Homo sapiens: one gene and its partner. The protein of the gene in region 2 purifies or fractionates together with the protein of the main gene of each other region. This does not show direct contact. Each region holds a gene or a part of one and is shown on either strand. Other genes may lie near its edges. The genes, in order: MEX3A and SCIN.

The links.
Region 1: the proteins of SCIN (region 2) and MEX3A purify together in Homo sapiens (affinity purification with western blotting, with the first as the bait; one study listed by BioGRID). This does not show direct contact.

Annotation. Positions count from the first base shown.
Region 1 is NC_000001.11:156,075,966-156,079,465, reverse strand, and holds part of MEX3A (RNA-binding protein MEX3A), read left to right. Parts: intron 1-1,783; coding exon 1,784-2,892; 3' UTR 2,893-3,500. UniProt on the Homo sapiens protein: RNA binding protein, may be involved in post-transcriptional regulatory mechanisms.
Region 2 is NC_000007.14:12,625,938-12,629,961, reverse strand, and holds part of SCIN (scinderin), read right to left. Parts: intron 3,379-4,024; coding exon 3,163-3,378; intron 862-3,162; coding exon 740-861; intron 1-739. UniProt on the Homo sapiens protein: Ca(2+)-dependent actin filament-severing protein that has a regulatory function in exocytosis by affecting the organization of the microfilament network underneath the plasma membrane.

The DNA of each region.
Region 1 (3,500 bases), on a different chromosome or scaffold from region 2:
GGCGGGTGGATCACCTGAGGTCAGGAGTTCAAGACCAGCCTGGCCAACGTGGTGAAACCCCATCTCTACTAAAAAATACAAAAAATTAGCTGGGCGTGGTGGCAGGTGCCTGTGATCCCAGCTACTCGGGAGGCTGAGGCAGGAGAATCGCTTGAACCCAGGAGGCAGAGGTTGCAGTGAGCCGAGATTATGCCACTGCACTCCAGCCTGGGTGACAGAGCAAGACTCCATCTCAAAAAAAAACAAACAAAAAAAGTGAGGGAGGGTCCCCCAACCTACTCTCTTCCCCTCACCCCCCAATCTGCCAGCGTTGAAGAAGCAGCCATCTGGAGTGGAGGAAGGAGGAAAAAATGAGCTCACCTCAGGTCTCAGGTTGGAGGGTTGGGGCAGAGGCAGAAAAGTAGGACCACTTGGTTTCGGTTGGAGAGAGAAGGGGAATAGTGAGTTGTGCTCAGAGAAGGGTGTGAGTGGGTCTATATGTGATTGGGGGTGAAAGTCATGGGTGCGGGTGTGTATAGGAATGTGCTGTTTGTGTGCTGGGGAGGATGGGGATGGACAGTGGGATGTATGAAAGGCCGAAACACAGGGACTTGATGTGTGTGTGAAAGAGGTGTATAAAAGTGTACATTAGATTGGCCCCATAAGTATTATTTAGATAAAGGCACACCTCTTAGGTACATGTGTGTGAACTCACACACGTGACGTGTGCTTCCCAAAAGGGTATGAGTCTTGGAAGCTCTGTGTGAAGCTAGGAGCAGGGAAGAGGAAGGTGGGTAAGGAGGAGAGGGACTTGTCCAGACCCCCAGGTCGGCAGCTTTTAGAAACAGAATAGCCCTTACTTTTCTCTCTAGCCTTCTCCCTCTTTGTCTCTCTTTGTCTCATTTTTCTTCTTTCTCTTCCTGCCTTTCCCTAACCTCCCAGCTTTAACTCACTTCTACTTCAAAGCAGGAGTGTGGGTCCAAAATACCTCTCCCTCACCGTACTCAGCCCCAGCCCAGCTCAGCTGTCTTGCCCCCAGGGGACAGGGGGACAAGAGTGACACGGGGTTGGGCACTGTTCCCTCACACAGAAGTTTAACTCCATACTCCTCCTTTCCTCCTTGAACTTATGATTGTCAGACCTTTCCCAGTCCCCTACACTCTACTCGTTGCTGCAAACTCGCTATGAATTTGAGGCCCACTGAGAGAAACTACTGAGTGGAAGGCATGTGGGGCGGTCATAGAGCAGATAGACTTCAGTGGTCCCTGGGTAGTTTGGAGGACACTTTTAATGATCAAGGGTCAGATGAGTAGATTATGAGGTTACTGAGCACATTGGGGTTCTGTGGAAAGATCAGGGTCAGTGACAGATGTGGGGGGTGATTAAGTGATTTGGAAGTTTGTGAGTAGCCAGGAATCAGTAGAGAAATTGAAGGAAGAGCAAATGTTGGGAGAAAGGAGTGTAGTTTGTGAATGGATTTGAGTTACCAGCTTGTATGGGAGGGTCAGTGATTATTTGGGGGTTTTGAGGAGTGAATGAATTTGGAGGGCCCTGAATGGAACTCAGGGAAAGTTAGTACATTTTGAAATCTGTGGCTGAGAGAGACATTAGGCACATCTGAGATCTGATAAATGGTTTCTTCAAGTCAGGGTGGACTGTGTGTGCAGCAGTGGGCATTTCAAAGGGTAGACTGAAGTGTTCCTGGGAGGCTAGGTATTTGGGTAAGGATCAGGAATTTATTGGTCCCAGCACAAACCTTGCTGTGTGCGTTTCTTTGTCTCTCTCCTTCCCCGCCCTATCCCAGGCTGCAAGATTAAGGCCTTGAGGGCCAAGACCAACACCTACATCAAGACACCGGTGAGGGGCGAGGAACCAGTGTTCATGGTGACAGGGCGACGGGAGGACGTGGCCACAGCCCGGCGGGAAATCATCTCAGCAGCGGAGCACTTCTCCATGATCCGTGCCTCCCGCAACAAGTCAGGCGCCGCCTTTGGTGTGGCTCCTGCTCTGCCCGGCCAGGTGACCATCCGTGTGCGGGTGCCCTACCGCGTGGTGGGGCTGGTGGTGGGCCCCAAAGGGGCAACCATCAAGCGCATCCAGCAGCAAACCAACACATACATTATCACACCAAGCCGTGACCGCGACCCCGTGTTCGAGATCACGGGTGCCCCAGGCAACGTGGAGCGTGCGCGCGAGGAGATCGAGACGCACATCGCGGTGCGCACTGGCAAGATCCTCGAGTACAACAATGAAAACGACTTCCTGGCGGGGAGCCCCGACGCAGCAATCGATAGCCGCTACTCCGACGCCTGGCGGGTGCACCAGCCCGGCTGCAAGCCCCTCTCCACCTTCCGGCAGAACAGCCTGGGCTGCATCGGCGAGTGCGGAGTGGACTCTGGCTTTGAGGCCCCACGCCTGGGTGAGCAGGGCGGGGACTTTGGCTACGGCGGGTACCTCTTTCCGGGCTATGGCGTGGGCAAGCAGGATGTGTACTACGGCGTGGCCGAGACTAGCCCCCCGCTGTGGGCGGGCCAGGAGAACGCCACGCCCACCTCCGTGCTCTTCTCCTCTGCCTCCTCCTCCTCCTCCTCTTCCGCCAAGGCCCGCGCTGGGCCCCCGGGCGCACACCGCTCCCCTGCCACTTCCGCGGGACCCGAGCTGGCCGGACTCCCGAGGCGCCCCCCGGGAGAGCCGCTCCAGGGCTTCTCTAAACTTGGTGGGGGCGGCCTGCGGAGCCCCGGCGGCGGGCGGGATTGCATGGTCTGCTTTGAGAGCGAAGTGACTGCCGCCCTTGTGCCCTGCGGACACAACCTGTTCTGCATGGAGTGTGCAGTACGCATCTGCGAGAGGACGGACCCAGAGTGTCCCGTCTGCCACATCACAGCCACGCAAGCCATCCGAATATTCTCCTAAGCCCCGTGCCCCATGCCTCCGGGGCCCACTCCACTGGGCCCACCCTGGACCTGTTTTCCACTAAAGCCTTTTGGAAAGCGGTGATTTGAGGGGCAAGGTGCTTAGAGATACTCGCTCGCTGGGGAAGGGGGGAGGGAGGCAGTGGTGGCTGGAGGGTGCGCCACTTTCAGAGCCTCTGGTCACCCTGTCCTGGAAAGATTGGGAGGGGGCCAGACTGAAAATTTTACTAGAGTTACAACTCTGATACCTCAACACACCCTTAAATCTGGAAGCAGCTAAGAGAAACTTTTGTTTTGCCAGAGGTGGCCACTAAGGCATTCTGACGCCCTCTGCCCACCTCCCCCGCTGTGTGTCACTCCACCCCTTCTTCCGAGGAGGGGGTGGGTAAAAGGGAGAGGGAGAATTACCACCTGTATCTAGAGGTGCTCTTTGCAATCCCTAAGCCCTCTGGTCCTGACCTCCGACCTCCTAACATGACCCTTTACCTCCCACCCCACCCCCATATCCTGTTTGGGAAACTGTCACCAGTTTCCAGCAGTGTAAGGGAGTTGGAGTCCTATCAGAAGTTGCATAGATCTTCTAGGGGTTGGGGAGAGAAGCATGTCAAT
Region 2 (4,024 bases):
TTCTTTTTTCCAGCCGTCTTAGCAATATTCTATTTTTACCTGATTTCACTTAATAAAAAGTTAGAGAATTTCACATTATATAATTTGTTGCAGAATCCCTATCCCTTGACATATCCTAGCATGGTGTATGCACATAAATTACTTGGTTGGACATTTGATCATTTCCTCCTTGAGCAGGGCATTGGCAAATTTAGACTTCAATTAAATCATCATGCAAAACCATGTAATATGAAAACACAGTTGCATATTTTTTCCATTATTCTTGTGAATTTAATGGAAACAAGAATAAGAATTGCATCAAGTTGAGGTATCAGTGGAATCACAAATTGTATCTCCTACAGGTTTTGCCATATTGCAACTTTGCAGTTCCAATTAGGATGGACCTCTGTGAATTTTAACCATAAGAAACCATGGTACCTGACACTTGCTGTTGCAGTGTTAACCTGCATACAAGATGAGATATTCAACTACATATCCACTAGGAGAACATCACTGGTTTAGGATATCAAAACTTTTTGCCTAGACTAGATAGCATGATCTTTATGTGACTCCTGCTGCCTGTGGATGGCAACTGCAAAACATAGTCAAAATCATGTAAAAAGAAAATACTATATGCATGCTATACAAATCTCACTGGGATGATTATAGGATTATTCTACCCCATAATGCATAGAATTTAATACTTTGGAGCAAAATCTGGCTCCTGTGGAACTCGAGATCTTTACCCGTATAAACTCACCACGTGTAGATAATCTGTCCTCTGGGATAGGTGTAGAGTATGATGTAGCAGTCACCACCATAGAATTCACCATATGAGTTTTGGTCAACTTGGATCCTACCATTGTTTTCTACACGCCAAATCTGGAAGGAATGGAATATATACAACAAATTACAATTTTCTTGATCTAATAATATTTCTCATAAGCTTTAAATAATTTTTGGTTCAAATCCATTATTAAACAACTTTTAAATTATTTATTAACTAGTTTACAAATCAAGCAAAGAAATTGTTATCGATTTGCCAATTTATTGACATTTTAACTACTTTTATGTGTCTTTTGCTTCCTCTACAGTATTAAGCTCAGTTCCGAGCCCATTGATTAATAAATACTTATTGTTTCATCTACTAGTGGAAATAACATGACACTCCAGTGGAATAAAAAACTGCAAGATTCAGCTCAGAAATATATATCTATTTTATAGTTAATTTTTTTCTTCAATTATGAAATAACATATATATATATTTTTTTCCCTGTGCTTTAAGATAGCGGACTATTATTTTCCCAGGCAAAACTTGATAGACTGTGACCAAATACTAAAAATGCTACAACACACTGAATGTTTGAGTCCCTCCACAATGTATGTTGAAATCCTAACCTCCAGTGTGATGGTATTAGGAGGTGGGACCTTTGGGAGGTAATTAGGTCATGAGGCTGGAGCCTTCATGAGTGAAATTAGTGCCCTTATAATCAGAAAGCTCTCTAGCTCCTTTTCCACCATGTGAGGATGCAGCAAAAAGTCTATGAACCTGAAAGTGGATCCTCCACCAAACACTGAGCCCATCAAAACCTTGAGCTTAGACTCCCCAGCCTCCAGACTGGTGAGAAATACATGTTTCTGCTTAAACCCCCAATCTATGGTACTTTTGTTATAGTAGCCTGAACAGACTAAGACCATGCCAATAATATGACTTCTGTTTTTAAAAGGTGCCATCCAGGAATAAGACCGAAATGTGATGCTGGGAGAAAAGCAGGCAGAACCACTTTCATTCTGCCTCCTCATCTTCAGCACAGATTAAACACCCTCCAACTTGGAGAGATGAGAATTGTAGATGAAACAGGAGAGTAACAAACGAAGGAGAGGCTGCCAGGCACTGTGTGTGTACATGCAAGCAAACACACACACACACACACACACACACACACACACGCGCGCACACTTGCCTAAGTTCTCAGTTGGGAAGGGCAGACTCTTTGCTTTGAAATCTGAAGATAAGCAAGTGGACAGGAACAGTGCAGTGCTTCTAGAGAGAGGCCACCCCATACTATCCTAGTGAGCAGAAGCCTTAGATCCTAGAGAGAGCACAAGATCCGAGAGAGAGCCCCCAGATTTCAGCAGCCCTAGGATGGCACAGGAGAAGGCTGCAGCCAGGACACAGCTGGTGCTGGGGACCAAGTTTGCCAGGAGGGCTGAGCTCTGGCAGGAATGTCTGAGCAGGAGACAGATGCAGACCCAGAAGTCAATACCCCTCTGACAACAGCCATGAGGGACATTTGTGACCTTCTCCCTTGGCACTTCCCACTCTCCAACACCCATGCCGCTTAGATTCACGCTTCACGTCTTTGAAAAGAGGAAAAATTATTTCCCTAATTTCTTGACCATATACTTTGGTCCAAGAATTGTAGTAAGCCCTAGGAATATAGAGATGAAATATTTCATTCCTGTCCTCAAGGAATCGATGAGAGCTCTAGGAGAAATCTGGCAGTAAATGAACAACTCTGTGGTAGGTATATGATAAATTATGTGAGAAGTATCGCTAGAGGTTGAGCACAGAGAAAGGCCACTTCAGCGCTGAGGGAAGCCTTCTCAGAAAAGGTATGGCTTGTGATTTAACTGAGTTGCCAAGGAGGCGTAGGAACATTAGCTAGATGGCAGAGGGGAAGTCAGTCCTCAAGGCAGTGGAAGGGTGAAGCCAAGATGACGGAAAGGGTCAAGGGTCCAGCTGAAGATGGATCTTCTCAGGAAGGCTGTGGAGAGCCATTAAATATGTATAAATATATTTAGATATACATTTATAAATATATATGTATATATACACACAGATATATGTGTATATATACACATTTATGTGTGTGTGTGTGTGTGTGTGTATACACACATTTCTCACTCTGTCACCCAGGCTGGAGTGCAGTGTTATGATCTTGGCTCACTGCAGCCTCCACCTCCCAGGCTCACGCGATTCTCATGCCTCAGCCTACCAAGTAGCTAGGACTATGGGCGAGCTCCATCACACCTGGCTAATTTTTGTATTTTGAGTAGAGGTGGGGTTTCACCATGTTGGCCAGGCTGATCTCGAACTCCTGTCCTCAAGTGATCTCCCCCACCCTCCCCCTACATACACTGGCATTAATGGGCTTGATAAAAACAAAAACAGGTAAATACCTCCACTTTGCCAGAACCATCATCCACCATATTGTGCTGGGCTGCCATCTGCGGAGAACTGTGTAATTTTGAGGCATCAAAGGGAATTTGTTTTATTTGAGCCACTTTCTCTGTGACATAAACTTTCCCGAAGCCATCACTCTGATCTTTATCTCTCCAGTCCTTAAAAAACTGTTTGAAGATTGGTGTTTCACCTCCTTCTGGAAGAACTTGAATCTGAAATTTAAAATAATAATAATAGTAAACAGGAAAATAAGAAATTAAGGGAAAATATGAATCTGGCAGTGGAGACAAAAGTAAGGAAATGGAAAATTATCCTGGTTTAGCTATCAAGCTCATATAATCCAAAATTGCTTTTTCTCACAACTAAAGTAATTGCCGCTGAATTTGAATATTTGAGAGAAGAATCAAGTTCTTTAATATGTTACCCCTGCAGTAAAATAAGTTTGTCTTTCTACATAAGGTTCACAAGAGCTCTGTGACCTGGAAGAAATGATCTCATTGTGTTCCTTGTGCAGGGACATAAAAATGAGGAGAGTAGATGAGGCTGAGAGATTCGGAAAGGAAAGGAGTAACTAGCCAGGGTCTAAATTGATTTCGATGAAGACAAATATCATCTGGGTTTCAGGCCAAGTCTGCACAACTTGCTCTAAGGAATAATAACTCTTAAGTGCTCTTAGCTAAACCTACTGTGGTTTACTATCTTGAATTAAAGGCTGTGGAGGAAGTGAATGGGCAGCTCTATGGAAAGTCTGATGTGCAGTTTCTAAAAAATTCTAACCCCCACGCAGATAAAGAAGAGGGACACCAGATTGCAGCAGACAGGCAGGTGGAGAATCACTTCACATACAGACGTTACTTT